Linked DNA regions of Homo sapiens. The protein of the gene in region 3 purifies or fractionates together with the protein of the main gene of each other region. This does not show direct contact. Each region holds a gene or a part of one and is shown on either strand. Other genes may lie near its edges.

Region 1 (7,023 bases), on a different chromosome or scaffold from region 3:
CCACCTGGGCCTCCTGTTTCCCTCACCCTTAGGAGGTCCCAGTCTTTCATACTGATCCATCTGTCATGCCAGCAGCTGGATTGGGCTTTTAAAACATAGATTCAGGCTGGGCACAGTAGCTCACGCCTGTAATCCCAGCACTTTGGGAGGCAGGCGGATCACCTGAGGTCAGGAGTTTGAGACCAGCCTGGCCAACATGGAGAAACCCCGTTTCTACTAAAAATACAAAATTAGCCAGGCATGGTAGCGCATGCCGGTAATCCCAGCTACTTGGGAGGCTGAGGCAGGAGAATCGCTTGAACCCAGCAGGCAGAGGTTGTGGTGAGCCGAGATCGCGCCATTGCACTCCAGCCTGGGTAACAAGAGTGAAACTCCATCTCAAAAAAAAAAAAAACAAAACATAGATCTGATCACGTTACCTGCTTATTAAAAGGTAAGCCCTTCTAGAAAGTGCTAGTTTTCCCTCATTCTGTCACCACTGTCCAGTCCAGGGGTGCACAGGGCCCAGGCCTCACCTGGCAGGTACGGTGGCTGTGCCCAGGTGCAGCCTAATGTAGTTCTTGGCCCTGAGCAAGGCAGGGCTGGCCCGTCCTGCCTCTGAGGCTGTGGGAGTCCTGGGACTCCCCTGGCTCCATACCCTGGCAACGGGACCACCACAGTGAGCCCCTCACAGCCTCTTCAGTCAAGGGACCCCCCCAGTGTCATTATGTGGGAAACCTCAGCTTTCTGAGGCTCTTTTCCCTTCCTTTCCCCTTCCCCTCCCCGTCCCCCTCCCCCTCCCCCACTCAGAACCAGTTTGGGAAGGGATGTGGGGTAAAGGCAGAGTATTCCTGTCCTCCCTGCACTTAGGAAGCTGGGATTAGGATAGAAAAAGGATGTGGTGCTCACAGGGGCTGGGTTGTGGCTCAGCATTGCCAGCTTCTGCCTGGCAGGCCACACCAGAGCCGCCCCTGACAGGCTATGTCCATCCTCCTGCCCCACAGCTCGTTGCCAGAGGAAAAAAACAAGAGCAGCTGCTCTTTTGAGACCTGCCCGAGGCCTACTGAGAAGCAAGAGGCAGAGCTGGGGGAGCCGGACCCTGAGCAGAAGAGGAGCCGCGCACGGGAGCGGAGGCGAGAGGGCCGCTCCAAGACCTTTGACTGGGCTGAGTTCCGTCCCATCCAGCAGGCCCTGGCTCAGGAGCGGGTGGGCGGCGTGGGGCCTGCTGACACCCACGAGCCCCTGCGCCCTGAGGCGGAGCCTGGGGAGCTGGAGCGGGAGCGTGCACGGAGGCGGGAGGAGCGCCGCAAGCGCTTCGGGATGCTCGACGCCACAGACGGGCCAGGCACTGAGGATGCAGCCCTGCGCATGGAGGTGGACCGGAGCCCAGGGCTGCCTATGAGCGACCTCAAAACGCATAACGTCCACGTGGAGATTGAGCAGCGGTGGCATCAGGTGGAGACCACACCTCTCCGGGAAGAGAAGCAGGTGCCCATCGCCCCCGTCCACCTGTCTTCTGAAGATGGGGGTGACCGGCTCTCCACACACGAGCTGACCTCTCTGCTCGAGAAGGAGGTAATAGCCTGGGACCAGATCCCCACCCTGCTCCCAGCAGCCTTTCCAGAGCATCAGCTGTGCCCAGCTGTGGCCTGAGGGGTTCATCTAGACAGTCCTACCCGCGAGGGACTTGCAGACCCCTAGGGGAGACAGACGCATAGATGAGTCCTCATAGTTGAGGCAGACCTGAGAGCTGTGGGAGCGTGCCAGTGCATGCAGGGCAGGGAAAGGGGCCTTCCAGGCACAGAGGAATTCTTCCGATGGTGGGGGCCCCTGCCATTGAGAGGCAAGCGGCGTTGCAGGGCCTAGATGGTTTCCTCGTTCTGACTCCCGATGGCAGGAGGGGCGCGAGCAGGGCAAGGCTTTTGCATTACGCAGCCCTGGCTTGGACAGGTCAAAGCTGTAGGCAGAGACCAGCCCCAGGTGCTCTTACAGTGGCTTGGGGACGGCCGATCAGATCTGAAGCCAGGGGCATCCAGCAGGAGATGACAGCTGGGTCCTAGGTCATGAGGATATGAAGCAGAAGACAGTGGTGAGGCAGGGTAGGCTGTGGATGAAGGCTGCCCTGTGACTGTCACTCCTCCACGAGGCCTTCAGTGCACCTAGGTACATAGATGAACAAGCTGGCCCCCGAACTATAAAATAAGATGTTCTTTCATGGAAATGTATGCAGAAATCCAGTCTGCAGAACTTCAGTGGTAGATTGACATGTCTGGGCAGGGAGTCTCGTAGCTGGGGAGGTGTAGCGTTACAGTTTTTGTAGAACTCCCTGTTTCACTCTCCATTTAGGGACAGTTTTCAACACTGTGTTTCAAATGTGTTCTCTTACGTAAGTAGCTTGTTAAAGATTTGCCACTTGGGTATGCCTCAAGCTTCTCATCTTTTTTGTATTTTATTAACTGTATGAGGCTGAGTTACCACCAGCACTAATACTTGTACTTTTTCATTTTCCTCATCCATTAACAAGTAACAAAGGCAAGATGAAATAAAATAACAGTTGAAACTCACATTACTTCAGGCTACCAAAATGGGCCAGCCAGCAGGCGACACACTGGCTCAACAATCTGGGGGGTCAGTCTTCACTGTTTAAAAGTCAGGGGTCGGCTGGGCATGGTGGCTCACGCCTGTAATCCCGGTACTTTGGGAGGCCGAGGCGGGCGGATCACAAGGTCAAGAGATCAAGACCATCCGGCCAACATGGTGAAACCCCGTCTCTACTAAAAATACAAAAATTAGCTGGGCATGGTGGTGCATTCCTGTAGTCCCAGCTACTTGGAAGGCTGAGGCAGGAGAATCACTTGAACCCAGGAGGCAGAGGTTGCAGTGACCTGAGATCGCACCATCGTACTCCAGCCTGGCGACAGAGCGAGAGTCCATCTCAAAAAAAATAAATAAAAGTCAGGGGTCTCCCCGCCTCTCACAGCACAGTCTGTCAGCACCCTGGGCGGCACTGGCCTGACTGTCCACCACACACACAGCTCCATTCAGCACGAGCTCTGGGAGCAGGTTGGGTAGCCCTGCACATGGCCAGGCATCAGGAGGCACCTGGGAGGTGTGTAGGGAAGAGGTGGATGGATGAATGAGTAGCTGAAGCTGTTGAAAGCAAGAAGAGTGTAAAATAGCTTACTCATGGGTATCCACACCTTGTTTGAGGGAACTGCGGGAACTCTTTTTGCAAACAGAACTTTGTGGAATCCATCATGTAAAGCTGGTCAAATGGAGTGGTTTCAGTTGAGACCATAGTGGGCCCTGGAGTGAGGCCTGCTTGGGGCCACCACTCACAGTGGTCCCTGTAGAGCCTAGCCTGGCCTGTGTGACCAGCTGAGGACACCCAAAGGACCCCATGGGGTGCTTCCTCCAGATGCAGATGCAAAACCCTTGTTCCCCAGTGGACACATTCCCCTTCTCAGAAATGAACACCCCGTATGGGCCTTGGCACCTATATAGGGCGTGCATGTTGGAACCTTGAGCAGGTGTGGGAAGTATGTGGGCATCCAGGGGTGCCTGGAGTAGGGAAGGACAAGGTAGTCCCTTGGTGCCCATAAGGTACCAAGTCTGCCATTGTTACTGATGGCTTGCATTGGAACCTTCACTTCCAAATGCTGCTGGTAAAGGCCATATCAGCACATCTGCTGAAATGTGGAGACTCCAAAACTCTTGGGCCACATGGAAGACCAGTGAAAGAGTCTGTGCTGTGCAGCTGCTTTGTTTATCATTGTCATTTTGCATAAAAGTGTGTGTCTTTTTGCCAACAGCTGGAGCAGAGCCAGAAGGAGGCCTCAGACCTTCTGGAGCAGAACCGGCTCCTGCAGGACCAGCTGAGGGTGGCCCTGGGCCGGGAGCAGAGCGCCCGTGAGGGCTACGTGCTGCAGGTAGGGTGGAGGGGCTGCTGTGGCCCATGGTGCGCTCAGGAGCTTCAGTGTGAAGGGTTCATGCTCAGGCAGGCTAGGAGTGTGCAAAACTTGGCTGAGCAGGGGTGTCTCCCAGGAGCTCATGCCCCTGGGCTTTTCTGCCACAGGACTGGACACTCAATGTGCTTGGGGGGGTCTGTTTGTTTTTCCCTCCTGATATGACATTTTGGGGAATCTCCCTGAAACCTCTATATCTAAGGACTTTTTTTGGTAATAAAATGATTTTGGTGACCTTTCCCTTTGACTCTGAAAGTAGCCAATATACATTTATTGTAAATACCATACATTTGCATGTGATTTCTCATAGTTTTCACTATAGTAATATTGGACCTATTGTACAGATTGAAGACATTGAATCACACAGCAAGTCCAGTGCCTGCTTACAACCAACAGCAAGTCAGTGGCAAAGCTAGTACTGGACCCCATTCCCATCTGTTTCTATACCACACCTGGCAGGCAGAGCTGGGGCTCTTACCACTACTAGCCCAACCCCGGGATACCTCCACTGAGATCCTGTACCACAGAGCCCTGATATAGGGGTGTCACAAGGCTGGAGCTAGCCTGGCCCAAGGGCGTGCCTATGTCTGCTGACTTTCCTGCAGCGTGCCAGGCCTTGTGCCAGGTATTGGGCATAAAACAGATATACTCTTGTCCCCATTGAGTGGTAGAGGAGATTGTGATAGGAAGATTGATATATAAATACTGCAGGAGAAGTGAAGTGGGGTACCAGAACAGGGAGCCTAAGTTCTCGGCAAAGGCTGAGGGTATAACATTAGAATCAAGGTCCTAGGTTCAAGACTTGGCCCTGCTACTGACCCCCAAAGCAAGTGCATGTGTCCCCTCCTCTACAGCGGCAGTCTGCTGCCTGTGTAGACTTAGACCCAGTGATCCCTGAGGGCCCTTCCGGCTCTTAGACCCCGAGTCTCTGTCACGTATTGTCTACATTTGCAGACCGCAGTGCGCTGACCTTGGTCTGAGTTGTCCCAGGCAGCAGATGGAACAGGGGCACTCAGCTGGCCTCTGACCATAGTCTGCCTCTTTGCAGACTCTCTGCTGTTTCTTCTCCTGTGTGCTCCCTGGGCCTTCTCTTTCTTTCTGCCCCACATGCCCTAGACTCTCCTCTCCAGCCTCTTCTGCCATAGTCATTGCCATGCCCTGTTCAGACCTGGTGAACAGGGCCTCCCTGTGGGCCTCCCTGCCAAGGTCATTTGCGCTTGCCCTCCAGGTTTGAGGAGCATCTTTTTAATTCTTGATTGGGCCTCATCCTATAAGAACTGGCTTCAAATCAGGTAGTAAAGATAAAAGTTCAGCATCCCAAATTCGAAAATCTGAAATGCTCCAAAATCCAAAACTGAACGCTGACATTATGCTGAAAGGAAATGCTCACTGGAGCATTTCAGATTTTGGATTTTTGGATTGGGGATGCTCACCCAGTAAGTAGAATGCAAATATTTTAAAATCCGAAACAGTTCTTGTCCCAAGTATTTTGGATAAGGGATACTCAACTTGTACTAAGCAGCGGACTTTGCACATTGCTAACCTAGGAACCTACCTCTGTCTAACTTGCATAATTGCATGAGCCTACACTGAAGCCCCTGTTGGTCAGCACTGGGCAAAGCTGGTCTTTAATACCTTTTCCCTAAGTCTAATAACCTGTGACTTCTCACCACCCTTTATGCTTTGGAAATGCTTTTAATCACGACTCAGAATGAGCAGGGGGTCTGTGGGGTTAAGGGTCAGGAGCCAGCTACTGGGGTGGGTGCTATACTAACTGCTGGGAGGAGCTTGCATGATTTGGACATTGAGTGTGAAGTGTAACTTGAACTTAACATAACTGAGTGTCACATCTGTGGCTTCCCCGGCCAGCAGACCGAGAGGGAGCCATAGGCAGGCCAGATTCTTAGGCTGGGCTCGGCTCACTCTTGTTTGTGTTGTTTTTCCCTATATTAATGAGTTCTGTCTCTGCATGCCTTTCAGTGTGGGGAGTTTTGTTTCATTTACGTTGTGTTTTGTTTTTGCATGCTTCACTTTTTCTTATTTTGAACTCCACAAAGGTTTGTTTGTTTTGTTGATTATTGTATCTTACTCCATGGTTCCCGTTCCCCCCTCGTTTTGACTTCTTACAGGTAGAGATTAGTTCTTCCTGTTACTCTAGAGGACTGACTACACTTTCCACAGGAAAATGTTTGGATGTCACCTTGCTGACATCTCCCGAGTGTTACCTTCCTTCCTTCTCCTCCTGTCTTAGAAGGAAGTGGCATCATTTACCTACACCTTGTGTCCTGCGCTTGTTTAGGATTTGTTGTCAAGACTGCGTACTTTTTGTTTTGTGAAACAAACAGCTGCAGGTGCTGTGCTCCTCCCGCCTGTCCCTCTTCCTGGCGCTCTCTTGTCCTTTAGTCTTTGTTTTGCTTCTTAGTGTGTTCCATTATTCAGTTTTGTTTGGTTTATTTCTCCTAGAAGCTGTTTGGTTAAAGCTGTTTTCTGATGTTATTGTCCATGTTTTCTGTTTACCTGGAAGCAGCTACTTACTAAAAAAAAAAAAAAAGAAAATTTGTTGGATTTTTTTAATGGGAAAAAAAAATAAAGTTGTACAAAGGATAAAAGCCAAAGCCATCAAGGAGCTTTCTGTGGTTGTTCCTGGCCAGAGGTGTGACACTCAGAACTGGGAGGCCCGAGTGTTACTAACCAGTATTTAATCGGTTTTTTTAAGACTGAAGTGGCCGCCTCCCCATCGGGTGCCTGGCAGAGGCTCCATAGAGTCAACCAAGACCTTCAAAGTGAGCTTGAAGCCCAGTGCCAGCGCCAGGAGCTGATTACACACCAGATTCAGACCCTGAAGCGTAGCTATGGGGAGGCCAAGGACACGATCCGGCACCACGAGGCTGAGATCCGGAGCCTTCAGGCACGGCTCAGCAATGCGGCCGCTGAGCTAGCCATCAAGGAGCAGGCGCTGGCCAAGCTCAAGGGCGACCTGAAGCGGGAGCAGGGCCGGGTCCGCGAGCAGCTGGAGGAGCGGCAACACAGCGAGGCGGCGCTGAGCAGCCAGCTGAGGGCTAGCGAGCAGAAGCTCAAG
Region 2 (7,466 bases), on a different chromosome or scaffold from region 3:
CAAAATCAAAAATTTTTTTTCATGAATAGACATTTCTGTGTTAAGGAAACTATAATATTTCAACAAACATATCTGTTGAGTTTATTCTTACCTACTAATTGTTGGTCAGTTTGAAAAAAAGGCATTAAAATAAGATTACAAATTGGAATAGGAGGGAAGGGAAAAGGAGATATACCCGTGATAAAGACAGCAGTGGCTAATTACAAAACCTGGCCCAGGATTCCTGACAGCCAAAGAAAATATTTTTGGTACTTTGAAATAAAGCTCTCATGAAGCATTTATATAGGGAACATCAAATTCTAACAACACTTTCTATGTGTTAATACATGTAGGAATACTCAAATTATGAAAGCACTACACAGAGATGAATGGATAATTAACTATTATGCATATATTACTGAATTGAGAATAAAGCTACAATTCTGACTTTCAGCTCCCTGTTTTCATCAACAAAGTCTTATGCATAAATAACATAACATATTTTCTGAGATTGGGCAGTTTCTATGAAATACAAAGTCTGAAATAAGACTTTTATTAAAACTGAAATGTAACAACTCTGATCTTGTTATATAAAACCACAAACACACACATGTACACAATCTAAGAAGACATAAAATAAACACTTCCTTTAGGTTGTAATGTGCAAAGGTGAAATGCACAGAAAGATATTAACCATCTTTTAAGTGTAATTTTTCAGTTTTAAATAAAGCTTTTCAAGTGGTACTTATAGTGGAATAAAAACATACTTAAAATAAGCATTTAAAAATGTTTTCATTATTCCAAATAGTTTACAAAAATTTTAGACAAACTCCAACCATTATGGCCCACTTTAACATGCCTATCTGCTTTTTATATAAGCACACAGGTATTTATTAAGCATGTAAACCTCCTTTCCATTTATTACTATCCAGGAGGAATATGAAACCTAGATTATTATTCAGAGAGATATATAGCTAAGTGGACCTTCATTTAGCTTCATTCTACCCATTGATTTTGGTACTAACCCCATTAGGTAACCACGTGAAGAATAAGTCTTCTTTCTCTAGTAAGACAAACTCACCTTCCATCTGTTCCATTTAAAATGGCCTACCAGCCCCTTTGAGTTGAAGTCTTTCCCTGAATCAAGTTCCTTTTAGGATTCTTCTGAGGAGGGAAGGCCTGAAGGTTTCCTTCATTCCTTTATTCAGTACACAAATACTGGTGGAGAGTCTCCTGTGTTCTGGGCTATGCTTTCAGGAGACAAAGGATAAGACGTGGTCCTTTAAGAGTAGGCTGGGCACTGTGGCTCACGCCTATAATCCCAGCACTTTGGGAGGCCGAGGCAGGCGGATCACAAGGTCAGGAGTTCAAGACCAGCCTGGCCAACATGGTAAAACCCCATCTCTGCTAAAAATATAAAAAATTAGCCGGGCACGTGGCACATGCCTGTAGTCCCAGCTATTCGGGAGGCTGAGGCAGGAGAATCACTTGATCCTGGGTGGTGGAGGTTACAGTGAGCCAAGATCATGCCACTGCAGTCCAGCCTGGGTGACAGTGAGACTCTGTCTCAAAAAAAAAAAAAAAAGAGAATAAACCCCTCCAACTCTGCATTATGTAAATGAATAACTGAAACAAAGTGTCATGGGTCCTTGCCCTACCTAACAGAACCTACTGGGGGCCAAGAAAGGGAAGGGCTACTTCTATTTCTGCAATGAGGGAAGTATTCCTGAGGGGATAATACCTATGCTTAGGCACTTAAAATGATCGGCTGGGTGGTGAAATGAGGGGGAGATTCCCAAACGGGGAAATTGAGCGCAATCTTGGAAACGTGGGCAATTTTGAAACAGCTCTGCATAACTAGAAAGATTGGAAAACAGCAGTTTTCTCCTGTTATGTGAAAAGATTTATAGCAGCCAGGCATGGTGGCTTATGCCTGTAATTCCAGCACTTTGGGAGGCTGTGGTGGGCAGATCACCTGAGGCCAGGAGTTCGAGACCAGCCTGGCCAACATGGTGAAACCTTGTCTCTACTAAAAATATAAAAATTAGCCAGGCGTGGTGGTGGTCACCTGTAATCCCAGCTACTCGGGAGGCTGAGGCAGGAGAATCACTTGAACCCCAGAGATGGAGGTTGCAGTGAGCCGAGATCGCATCACTGCACTCCAGCCTGGGCAACAGGAACAAGACTCCTTCTCCAAAAAAAAAAAAAAAAAAAAAAAAAAGATTTATAGCAAATCTGTGATTATTATTTTGCTAATCACTGGCTACAGTGAGGATAGCTTAGTACCATTATGTGAAGACCACCAAGCTTGGTGGTGCTCTTAAGTGGTTTTGCCCAACATGAGCTTATTTCTTGCTTATGTGGATTCTGTTGTAGGTCCTGGGACTCTCCAGGGCAGCTGTGCTCTGGGTAATAGTTTAGCATTCCAGTCTTGTGTCACCTTCATTTTAATACATGCTTTCATGATTGCAGTAGCAAAGGAAGGGAACATAGAGACTCAAACACTGGCAGTAATTTCACCAGGAAATAAAGCATTTCATGTCTGTTCACATTTCCACTTATCAAAGTCACAGGGTCATACCTAATTTCCATGGGGTGGAGCATATAGTTCTCCCTAGGACCAGAAGGAGGACAGCAAAAAGTGGTAAGCACTGAAAATGCCTTCAGTGGTTACGAAATGTTATGAATGTTTTATGACTAAGATTAGCCTAATCTTACTGGTATTAGGGTCCATAATATTACTAGTATGTCATAAATTAAGGCTGAAACTAATTAAAGATTTAATCTTGTCTTGTGATTGAAAGTTATGGACTTTCAAGTAGTTTCACTGTTACTCAATATTTGCATCATTGTCTGTGCAAGCAACTGTAAAAGCTTGCACAGCTCTGTATTCAGAAGCATAAATGATTCATGAAATTGTTTAAACAGAGTTATTGTTTAAAGACTAAAACCCAGAGGTATTTAAATAAATTGCTTTACTCTTAGTTAAAATCTCTAAAAGCAACTTTTTCTAATATGGTTCCAGTATTGTAATCCAAATGAGCCATGTGTTTTTTTCTTTTCATATTTAAGATGCACTGAAAGGACATTATGCACTGAAAGAAATAAATACCAATGCCTGCGTGTGGTAGACAAATGGCACATTGCTAGGCATTTAGTTCAGCAATCTTTTTTTGTTGCTGCAATGGATAACCAACTAAAGGAGCATTAATATCAATTTAATTGTAATACCTGCCAAATGTTATTCTATCAGTGGCTAACACAGGTTTATTACTTGATGTTAGTGCTACAACAGAAGTCCCCTGCAGGATGTTCCTTCCTGTAAGATCTCTCCATCAGTTTAATCCAAATATGTTTTTAAAACTCTAATTTTAAATTCATTTCTTAATGTCACGTTGTTTTCTGAAAACACATTTTTGGGCCCATCAGAATGGCGCGCATCTTAAAACAATTGGCGCTTATGAAAAATATAAAATATGTAAATATATTAGGGTGGTGCAAAAGTAATTGCGGTTTTGTCATTACTTTTTAAAAAAAAAAAAAATGGCAAAAACCGCAGTTACTTTTGCACCAACCTAGTACCTGTCTGTCAGGTGTAAAGAATCATCTAAAGGGCATGCACGTGGATACTAAAACGTACAAACAAGCACACAGCTGTGTCTGATTCCTTTACCCTTGTAAAAGTTCCAATAAGTGAATACAATCTATTACTTAATTCTTAGTTTATAGACTGTCATTAGACATACTGTTGTCCAGTTCTCATGTCAGAGCTGTTATAGGCTTTTACAAAAAATGCCTCTGAAGACAGGGCAAGCTTAAACCTGCCACCAATTAGAAAGATCTGTGTCACAGGTGCGCTTTTAAAAGAATGGCAATCTTAAAGGTCAAGTTAAAAACACAAATTTAAAAAAACGATCCTGGACGTCGAGGGTCGGACTCTAGGGGGGGCAAGCTGCAGGCCCCACTCTGCGAGTTTCTGACCGCATTCCGCGGAGGCCCCAATCCTCCCCGCGGATCCTGGCAAGGCAGGTAACCTCCCTTCCCCCGCACCTGTCCGGTTCAGGCGCACCAGCCTTCCCGAAGCGCAGCCTAGCGGTGGGAATGGGAACACCTCGTCTGGGAGCTTTCTTTCGGTTCAGCTTCCCCAGCCGGACCCCAAAGACCCGAAGCCCTGGGGGAAGGAAATTCCAACTTGCTCCCGGCCCACCCCCGCCCCGTTCCTCTCTCCGGCTCGCTGCTTCCCTCGCTCCAATGCCGCCGAGCTGGTCCCCACTTATGTGCGGCCGTGCTGCAGAGGCGGCGGCGAGCTCCCGGACTCCGGGCAGGGAAATGGGGCAGGGTGAGTGAGAGAGCGGGCTCCAGCGAGGCCCCCAGCGCCCAGCCAGCGCCCGCACCCCGCCCGCGGGACAGGGGAGGTGCTGAGTCGGCCCTGCCCGCGCTGGGCTGAGCCTCGCAGGGGTTGCCGCTTCTCCATTCAAGTCCTGGCTTGAGAGCCGAGCGGCAAGAGCGCGGGCCGGGGAAGGGAAGAGTAGGAGAGGAAGCCGCGAGGGAGAACAGGCGAGCTACTGTCTCCTTTGGAAAAGAACGTAGGAGCCTTGGGTGGGAAAAGAGAGATCAGCCCTCCCAACTTCTCTTCGGGAAAAGTTTTCCTAGGGCGTTTTGTTTGTGCAAACTCGGCCGGAGGAGCCTGGGAGTGCGCTGCCGGCGTGGCAGCGGTGCCCGTGCGCCCGGCCCCGCTCCTCCTCCTTTTCCAGCCCCGGCGGCTCCTCTCCCTCCGAGAGGCGCCAAATGGCTACCCAGTAAACCCCACGGGGCGGGGGCTGCAGCGCCACCGCCTCCTCCGCCGTGCTCTGGGCGCCCGCTAGACCTTGTAGAGACGGCGGCGGCGCCCGCGGGCTGGGAGCCGGGGCCCGCAGGTGGAAGCGCACCCGGGAGGCGGGCCGGCCGGGGCTGGAGCGGCTCGGGCGGGCTCTTGACGCTCAGCCAGCTTCGCTCCGGCCTCGGGAAGGCGCGCGTCCCGCCCTGACCCGCCGGCCTCTCCCACCCCAGCAGTGACGCGCCGCCTGGGAGCTGGAGCCCGCGCAGCGCCCCGCAGGGCGATGGACGGCCGAACCCCGCGCCCGCAGGACGCCCCAGCCAGGTAAGCCCAGAGCGCCGCGCCGCCTCTCACCGGGGAGGGCGAGGCCGGCGAGGACAGCGAGGCCTCGGCCGTTTCACCTGGCTGGCAACTCGCTGCCCTGCCGGCGGCCTGACTCACTGACTGTCCTCCACGCGGCCGGGGAGGCTGCTTCCTCCCGGCCTTCTCGGAGGCCGCCCGGGCGGAGGGCTCGGGTCGTTTTTGGTTGCCTTCCTACCGGGGCTGCCCTGGGTTGCTACAGGCCAGCTGAATGCCAGGAATTGGGTGAGGAGTCCGGGAGCAAAAATTGTAACAAAGGGACCCTTGTTTGGGCTCTGGGGGAGCGGTGGACGATACCTGTAAGTGAGCTCCTGGGGAGGGAGGGCAAAAGTTTCCTTGGTCATGGGCTGAGGCCCAGGCAGGTGAGCAATGTCAAGGTGACTGTAGGGAGTGGGCTTTCTGCAGGCGGGTGGAGGGCGACAGGAGGGTGTGCCAGCTGTCAGCCCGCATGACAGTTCCGGGAGCGAGCGGGGTGCGCGCCTCTGATTGGGGGTGTGTGTGCCTGTGGCCAATTGCTGGTTCCAAAACCCAGCGCAAATCAGATTGCAAACAACTCTACTTTTCTTTTTATCCTCACATGTTTGAGAAGAGAGGAAGGGGGCTGTCACATGGTGAGTTAATATTAAATGAGGCATGTCTTCCTGCCAGATATGCTAATAGTTACCTTGTTAAGCGTTTGAGTAAACAGTAATGAGAACAGGTAGTTCTGCAAGAGATGAAGAAAACCTGAAAATAACCTTGGTCTTAGTAAATAGTTCAGGAGTAACCTGGATGCTAGTTGAGTTTCTCAAGTAGGAAACTCGTTTGATGTAGTACAAGATTTTTCCCCCCAGCATAAGTGTTCCTCCAACATAGTTTATTTTCTTAGTTAATCTGAATGCAGAAATGCCCTAATGAGAATACGAGCATTCCAGAAATAGAAACGTTAAGGAAAAATCGACGTTGTCACTAATGAATGAGACTTGTACAGTTTTCCTGATTTAAGAGTGTAGAAGTCATTTTTCCCTGGAACATGACAGGCGTTTCCTTAGAAGCAAGTCACAGCATGTTTATTCATCAGAGACCATGCGAACATTGGCAGCTGTCTAGAGGAAACATGGAAAAGTCTCAAAGCAACATGACTAATCTAAAAGATATTTAGTATAATTTTTACATAGAGGAAACATGTAGTGTATTAATTATTTCATTTTGCTCAAATTAACTTTCTCCTTTCTGCAAATATTACTCCCACTGTTGACTTTCATTTCTTTTCTTTCCCCAGGTTTTTCATTGCTTAAATATTTTCATATATCCTGACATATATTCTCACATTAGGATGAGTAAAGAAATATATCGGTAGAAAGATATTGAGCATACAAGCAAGGTTCCTAAGTGGAGCTGCAAAATTATGTGAATTGACGATGAGACAGCTGTCAGGATACCGAAATGTATTCAGGGATTGCAAAATGAGATAGAATTAAATTGGATTTGGAAATGGATTAGGTTAAGGTACTTTAAAAAACAAAAAAGAAAGAAAAACATACCTGCTTTCACAAAATACACCCATGGGTGTTCAGAAGTCACTGGGGACTTTTAAGTAAAATAGGTGAGGTCAGATGGCTCTGTGTTGAAGAAACAGAAGAACACTTTTTGCTGGCAAGCATAACTGTAGTAAGAACCTTCAGACTTTACTCTTGATATTTTATTTTAATGTAGAGACAAGGTCTTGCTATGTTGCCTAGTTGATCCGAAACCCCAGGCTTCAAGCAATCCTCTCACCTTGGCTTCCCAAAGTGTTGGGTTTACCAGTATGAGCCAGTGCGCCCAGCCACTTTTGAGAATTTAAAGGTTAAACTGATAAGTTCTTTGCTTAAAAAGAAAGTACAAAAGAGCCTTATCTAATTTGTCAAGCATTTGTAAAGGACTTTTGCCGTCCCCTTTTCAAATTTAAGTAGGGAAAATCTGTCAACACCTTATCTAAAATAACACAGTAGTTCTATCATTTTGCCTTACATTATTCTACTCAGAGAAGTTATCATTACCTGAAAAATATCAACATGAAAAAATTACCTCTCTACTTCATTTGTCTTATTTCACTTGTCTAACTTGTCCTTTGGCATATTCCGAATGCCTGTCATATAAGATTTGTTGAATATTTAATATTCAGTATTGCTTCTCTTCTCTCTCAAAAACCCAAATTATAAAAGGTTTAAACTGGGGGAAAAATATCTAGATAAGGGTATTTGGGAAGTGGCAGGCAGAAATCTTAATATGTTATAATTGTTAGGTTTTGGAGATAAATTTCTTGCTATAAAACTGACTAATTATATCA
Region 3 (7,023 bases):
ATCGAACCCTCAGCCGGAGAGAGAAGAAGAAGGCCACTGACGGCGTCACCCTGACGGGCATCAACCAGACAGGCGACCAGTCTCTGCCGAGTAAGCCCAGCAGGTGAGTGGGCGCCACCTCCATCCAAAAGAGGCCGTTCCATGGTGGGGGCCCTGGGCAATCTGCATGGTCCAGGGCAGCCCCGGCCTGGACACCTGGGAGGTTCCTGGGCTCCTGAGCTCTGTGGGCCGTGGCCCAGCCTGGACACCTGGGAGGTTCCTGGGCTCCTGAGCTCTGTGGGCCGTGGCCCAGGGGCATCTCCAGGGAAGGTCGTCTTCCTGCCTGGTGCCAGAGCTGCTGACAGATCCAGAGAGGGAGGCTTGGCCCTGAGCTTCAGACCTGAGTGGGGAGGAGCTGATGACAGGGCTGGCATTCATGTCCCCAGGGATAGCACCGCCCTGCCCGGACACTGGTGGAGGTGCCACCCTGGTTCCCTCAGGCAGCTGAGGTCCTGCCGAGGTTCATGCTCACTCTGTATTGTGTGCAGGCGCCAGTCGAGGGAGGGACAGGAGAGGACTGCCAGGCATCTCCTTTCCAAATTACCTCTTCACTAGGAGCATTGGTTATTTCTGACTTAGTCATTGGCTGAAAATGAGAGATATAAGGGTGGCACTGTGGTCATTAGAACCTTCTGGAAAGTGTGTGCTAGAGGAGGTCTTCCTATAGGACCTGCCCACAGGCCTCCATGTGACACTCAGTAATAGTCATTTCATACGGGGGCTTCCTAAGAAGGCTTAGCCCAGGTTCCCTTGGCCTTCCTGCAGCCCCAGGCACTGAAGCCCCCACCCAGGCTCCCCAGCAGGTGTGGCTGTCGTCATTCCGCTGCTTTGCACGCTGTCTGGGCAGGTGGGCTCGGCAGTAAGTGCCTGTCCCAGGGATCAGGCCAGCACCTGTATGCTTGGGGGTGGGAATGGGAAAGAAGAAACACTGCCTCAGAGGAGACCCTGGGGGCCCTGGGCTGGCCAGGGTTGCTGCACAATCCAGCCGCCCCCACCAGTGCCGTCTCACAACAGTCTGCTAGAGAAAGGTGCCAAGGAGGGAGGAGGGCCGGTGAGCTCAGACATGTGGCCTGGATATTGGCCTCCAGCAGGCCTAGGTCAAGTACCACTTGCCAGGCTGAAGTGGATGAGGCAGTTACTGGCCACTCAGGATCACCCTGGTGGCATTGGAGGCATGTCCTCGCCTCCCTTCCTTGGTTCTGGGGTGGTGGGTGCTCAGGCTGAGCAGTCCATCCAGTGCTTTGGGGGCCTGTGCCCTGAGGCCCTGGTCTTGGAAGTAGAAGGTGCTGCTGGCCAGGGTAGCCCGGTCCTAGGATCAGTTACTTGGTGGGGTGCCAGGGCCCTTGGTGCCTGTCTGATTGGATTGCTTGATGGTCTGCCTGTGGTCTTCGTAGTGTGTAACTCAGCTCCCGGCTCCCAGCCCTCAGGCAGAGCTTGGCCCAGATCTCTCTGGTTCCCACACTGGGCCTGGCAAACAGTAGGCAGTTGCACGACTGGATTTTCCCTCTGGAGCACCAAAGGAATCTTCTTTCTATCTAGAAAAGACGGTGCCGCAGGCCCTGGCCCTGATTTTGGAGGCTTCAGCTCCACAGAGCAGAAGAGCGAGCCCTGAACCCCTTAGTAGTCAGGAGGAGGCCGTGTGGGCTGAAGAGCTCAGAGCCCTCTCCCACTCATCCATGGGAGCCGGCCCCTCCCACACTGTCACTCTCAGAGGAGACCCTGAGGGGCTTTTTGACCCCCCCAGCTCACATTGGTGGGAGTCAGGACAGAGGAGAAGCCCTGAACCTGGAAACGACTTTTGCTCCAGCTGTGGCTTGTCACCCGCCCCTGGGCCACCCCAGGGCCCCTGTTCTGGACGGACTGTCTCCAGGTGCAAGGAAGGAAAAGGGAAACCAAGTCCTCTCCTAGGCTCCTGGACCGTGTTTCACAGCTGAAGTATTGCCCGCATTCTGCCATAGTAACCTTTCTGTTGAAACACCACGGTCCCCTCCGGTCACAGGAGGAGCTGATTTGTCTCTTGAGATCCTGCAGCTAGGAGTTGCCAGGACCCTCACGGGCCCCTGCAGAGCTGGGATCCCCTGAAAGCTCTCTCTCTCCATAGCACCCTTAATGTCCCGAGCAACCCCGCCCAGTCTGCGCAGTCACAGTCCAGCTACAACCCCTTCGAGGATGAGGACGACACGGGCAGCACCGTCAGTGAGAAGGACGACACTAAGGCCAAAAAGTTGGTGAACAAATGCTTCCTCTGCTCCCACCGCGCTCACTCTGTCTCTCTTCCTCTCTCTCTGTCCAGGGGTCTCACCCCTCGGCACTCGGCAATGCACGGAGCTCTGCAGGAAGTGGGCACCTGGCGTGCCGCACCCTGGCCCACTACCTGCTCTCTGGCACAGGCTCTCTGGCACCCCCATTCCTCGGGGAGGGCACAGCTAACAATCTTAAGTTGCTTTTTCTCTGTCCTCTGTTAACCCTTCAAGGCCCTAGCAGCACCATGACAGGAAAACAGACAACGCGCAGTCTGTGCTGGGGACTAGAGAGTGAGGCCCCAGGTTGGCCTCTGCTGTGGGCATCTCCAGCCGCCTGCCCCTGGAAAGCCTGTTGATGGCTCAGGATGAGTGTGGATGGCATGAACTCACACTAGCACTGGCTCCACCTGTGCTCCTTCGGAAGGAGCCCTCAGCCCTGAGCCCCAAGGCTCCAGTGCCCTCCCCTTGCGGGGCGGGGGCCTCACACCCTCTGCCGCCCTGTGCTGAGGGCCCTGTGGCCTCCCCTTTCTTGCAGTGTGAGCAGCTACGAGAAGACCCAGAGCTATCCCACCGACTGGTCAGACGATGAGTCTAACAACCCCTTCTCCTCCACGGATGCCAATGGGGACTCGAATCCATTCGACGACGACGCCACCTCGGGGACGGAAGTGCGAGTCCGGGCCCTGTATGACTATGAGGGGCAGGAGCATGATGAGCTGAGCTTCAAGGCTGGTAGGTGGGCTCCCCCAGCATCCAGGGGAGGAGGGCTTCCAACCTGCAGGCTGTGGGCGGTCTTTTTTGTTTTTTAAGTCTGGAAAAGTTCTTGCTAGTTTCACTTGTGAGTCACTGCAGGCCCTTCCCCAGTGCCCTGGCTTCATTGTCAAAAGCAGCCAATTGGCTGGATGTGGTGGCTCATGCCTATAGTCCCAGAGCTTTGGGAGGCCGAGGTGGAAGGATCGCTTGAGCCCAGGAGTATGAGACCAACCTGGGCAAAATGGCAAAACCTGTCTCTACAAAAAATACAAAAAATTAGGCCAGGCATGGTGGCTCACGCCTGTAATCCCAGCACCTTTGGGAGGCCAAGGCAGGCAGATCACTTGAGGTCAGGAGTTCGAGCCCAGCCTAACCAACATGGTGAAACCCTGTCTCTACTAAAAATACAAAAATGAGCCAGGCGTGTGGCGGGGCATCTATAATCACAGTTACTCAGGAGGCTGCGGCAGGAGAATCACTTGAACCTGGGAGGTGGAGGTTGCAGTGAGCCAAGGTCACACCACTGTACCCCAGGCTGGGTGACAGAGCAAGACTTTGTGTCAAAAAAAAAAAATTAGCTGGGCTAATTTTAGTGGCACATGCCTGTAGTCCCAGCTCTCTGGGAGGCTGAGGTGGGAGGATCACCTGAGCCCAGTAGATTGAGGTTGCAATGAATCATGATTGTACCACTATACTCCAACCTGGACAACAGAGCGAGACCCTGTCGCAAACAAACAAACAAATAAATAACCTGGGCAACAGAGCGAGATCCTGTCTCAAATAAATAAACAAACAAAAGTAGCAGATTAGCTGGGCGTGGTGTTGCATACCTATAGTCCCAGCTGCTTGGGAGGCTGAGGCAGAGGATCACTTAAACCCAAGAGGATACAGTGAGCCATGTTCATACCACGTACTCTAGCCTAGAAGAGAGAGCAAGACCCCATCTCTTAAAAAAAAAAAAAAGTAGGCTGGGCATGGTGGCTCACGCCTGTAATCCCAGCACTTTGGGAGGCCGAGGCACACAGATCACGAGGTCAGGAGATTGAGACCATCCTGGCTAAGAGTGTGAAACCCCGTCTCTACTAAAAATACAAAAAATTAGCCGGGCGTGGTGGCAGCCGCCTGTAGTCCCAGCTACTCGGGAGGCTGACGCAGGAAAATTGCTTGAACCCGGGAGGCGGAGCTTGCAGTGAGCCGAGATTGCGCCACTGCACTCCAGCCTGGGCGACAGAGCAAAACTCTTTTTCAAAAAAAAAAAAAAAAGCGGATGCCCAATGCCAAGACTCAGAAATAGTGAGGTGCTGCCAAGCCAGTGCCTGGACTCCTCACCTTGCTGGGCCAAGGCTGTGAATTGCAGGGCACTGGCTAGTCACACAGAAGGGCATCTGGAGAAGCTGTTGGCCAGGACCACCAGGTTCCCCCATATGTAGTCTGGGAGCTGCTAGCCCCGCAGGGCCATGAGAGAAGCCTTTCTCTAGGGGTCCCCAACTGCCAGAGAAGCCCTCAGGAGAGCCACAGCTTTGCCCAGACCCCAGAGTAGCACTTGGCATGCCCCTGGGCCAGGTGGGGCCTTGTCTCAGGCAGCAACTTGTGTGTGTGCACACCTACCTGCCCACACCTACCATGCACACACCAACCCACACACATATCTGTGTTGCTAGGAGCAGAAACCATAGTTTTATAAAACAGCCTGGATCCTGATTACATGTGCTCTGCCTGTGAAGACTTTCTGTGCAATGTCTTTTTCTTCTTTGAATGGTCTTCAATGATAATCTTTTTTTTTTTTTTTTTTAATAGAGACACGGTCTCACTCTGTTAGCCAAGCTGGGTTACAGTGGTGCGATCATAGCTCACAGCAGCTGCAGCCTTGATCTCCTGGGCTCAAGCAGTCCTCCCACCTCAGCCTCCTACGTAGCTGGGACCACAGATGTGTGCTACCACCCCACCCACTATAGGAATCTTTTTTAATGCATTTGCAGTTTACCAAAATGGCTTTTCACATCTTCAATTTGAAAAGTGTTATCTTGTCCGGGCACGATGGCTCACACCTGTAATCCCAGCACTTTGCGAGGCCAAGGCCGAAGGATCACTTGAGGTCAGGAGTTTGAGACCAGCCTGGCCAACATGGTGAAACCCTGCCTCTATTAAAAAATAAAAAAATTATTCAGGCATGGTGGCACACACCTGTAATCCCAGCTACTGGGGAGGCCAAGAGAATCACTTGAACCTGGGAGGTGGAGGTTGCAGTGAGCTGAGATCATACCACTGCACTCCAGCCTGGGTGATGGAGTGACACTCTGTCTCAAAAAAAAAAAAAGGAAAGAAAATTGCTATCTTAGCACCTAAGGAAGCTGGAGTGGCCTAGGGCCAAAGTGGACCCACAGCAACCCAGATTCTTCCCTCTCTTGCCCTCTTTGTGAAGCTCCCCCAGAAGCAGCATCTACCACTCCAAGAGGGAAGCTGGGCCAGAACTCAACCCACACAGGCTGAAGTGTGCCCTTGCCCCTAGGCTACACTTGTGGGAAAGGCTGCCTTACCACCACCACCCCAACCCCTGACTCAGCAGGGAAGCCAGGGCCTGGGGGCTGTGCCCAATGGCCTAGCTTCTAACCAGTCTTCAGCCTCCTCCCCTCAGCACCCAGAGTGCCAGCCTGCTGTCCCCAGACACTCTTCCCCTGGGCTGGTTATCAGCTGCCTCTGCCCAGTTTGAGAAGTTGGGTTTTTTTGTTTTTTTGGATTTTTTTTTAATGTGCCTTTAAGCCATCTTCATCCAGTTTCTGATATCTTTGGTTGGGGTTGTTACCCCCGACTTTGTTGGTTTATTTGTTTATAATTTCTAACTCCTTTTCAATCCTGCCTATTGGGTTTGACAGTAATTTTGTAGATTTAAAATGTTTCTTCCAGATCCAAGTAAATTGTCAAAAGCAAACTGATTGAAATGAACCTTCTAATCACCAGTTCACATTTGCACAATGTGAAAGCTTTCCTGTCCGTTCTATTTTCTGTGTTATCCTGCTTTTTAACAATGCAAAATTAGCTCCCAGCCAGTGTGGCTTGACTTACGTCTCTTGCGGTGTTCTGGCTGTTTGCCACATGGTAGTGTGGGGTTACAGGCCTCATCCTAGCCTCGGTAGCCTGGATCCAGGCCTGTGAGAGCACAGCAACCAATGAAGGCAGGACAAAAGAAACGCCAGGGGCCCGAGGCACGAAGCGGTGGAAAGAGATGGTGGTTCATCGTGGCTGCTGCCCTGTGGCCCCTGCATCTGCTCCTGATGCCTCTGGGTTAGATCTGCAGGCGCACTGGTCTGGCAGAAGCGGCACGACAGTGGGAGGCTGAGCCAGTGCTTACGCATGTCCCACCCTCCCAGGGTTCTTTAGTGTCTTAACACTTAATCTTCACAGTACCCCCAGTCCACAGATGAGGGCCACAGGCCCAGGGAGTGGACGCAGTTGGTCCAGGTCTCCCAGCCAGTGAGTGATGGCTGTGGGATTTGAGCCCAGGCAGTCCGGGGAGCACTGGAAGCCCCAGGTATTAGCTCCGCAGGCATGTTGACCAGCATTGCTGCCATACAAAATCCAAAGCATCAGGGAAATGCTAAACCAGGGGGAAAACTGCATCTAATTCTGAAAAATGGACCAAAAAATGCCAAAGAGAGTTACAAAACTTCAAACTTAGCAATAAAGGCAAAACAGCACTGGGACTATTTCTTTCCCACCAATTGCTTGCTCCTGACGAGGTCCGAGCCAGCAGGCCCAACTGGCCTTCCCTGCAGTGAGTTACCAACCAGAAGCACACAGGCCCCTGCCCACCCCTGGGCTCTGAGCTGCTCTGCTTCCCTAACCTGGCAAATGCCAGACCTGGGGCCCTACCCTAGTGCCACCTCCCCCTCACCACCCTAGTCTGCCTCCTTGAGACCAGGATCCATCAGTTCCTCTCATCTCTGTATCTCCTCTTCTACCCAAGGCCTGGCCAGAAGTAGGAGGTCCT

Evidence for each region. The genes of interacting proteins can lie anywhere in the genome.
Region 1: the proteins of PACSIN2 (region 3) and MPRIP purify together in Homo sapiens (affinity purification with mass spectrometry; 4 studies listed by BioGRID and IntAct, with this or other methods). This does not show direct contact.
Region 2: the proteins of PACSIN2 (region 3) and COBLL1 purify together in Homo sapiens (affinity purification with mass spectrometry; 4 studies listed by BioGRID and IntAct, with this or other methods). This does not show direct contact.

The regions. Positions count from the first base shown.
Region 1 is NC_000017.11:17,157,449-17,164,471, forward strand, and holds part of MPRIP (myosin phosphatase Rho-interacting protein), read left to right. Parts: intron 1-983; coding exon 984-1,554; intron 1,555-3,791; coding exon 3,792-3,908; intron 3,909-6,660; coding exon 6,661-7,023. UniProt on the Homo sapiens protein: Targets myosin phosphatase to the actin cytoskeleton. Required for the regulation of the actin cytoskeleton by RhoA and ROCK1.
Region 2 is NC_000002.12:164,838,809-164,846,274, reverse strand, and holds the start of COBLL1 (cordon-bleu protein-like 1), read left to right. Parts: upstream 1-4,451; 5' UTR 4,452-4,565; intron 4,566-4,842; exon of another isoform or gene 4,843-5,028; coding exon of another isoform or gene 5,029-5,078; coding exon 5,079-5,119; intron 5,120-5,452; exon of another isoform or gene 5,453-5,526; intron 5,527-7,466.
Region 3 is NC_000022.11:42,872,128-42,879,150, reverse strand, and holds part of PACSIN2 (protein kinase C and casein kinase substrate in neurons protein 2), read left to right. Parts: coding exon 1-103; intron 104-2,140; coding exon 2,141-2,263; intron 2,264-2,817; coding exon 2,818-3,014; intron 3,015-3,620; exon of another isoform or gene 3,621-6,659; intron 6,660-6,691; exon of another isoform or gene 6,692-7,023.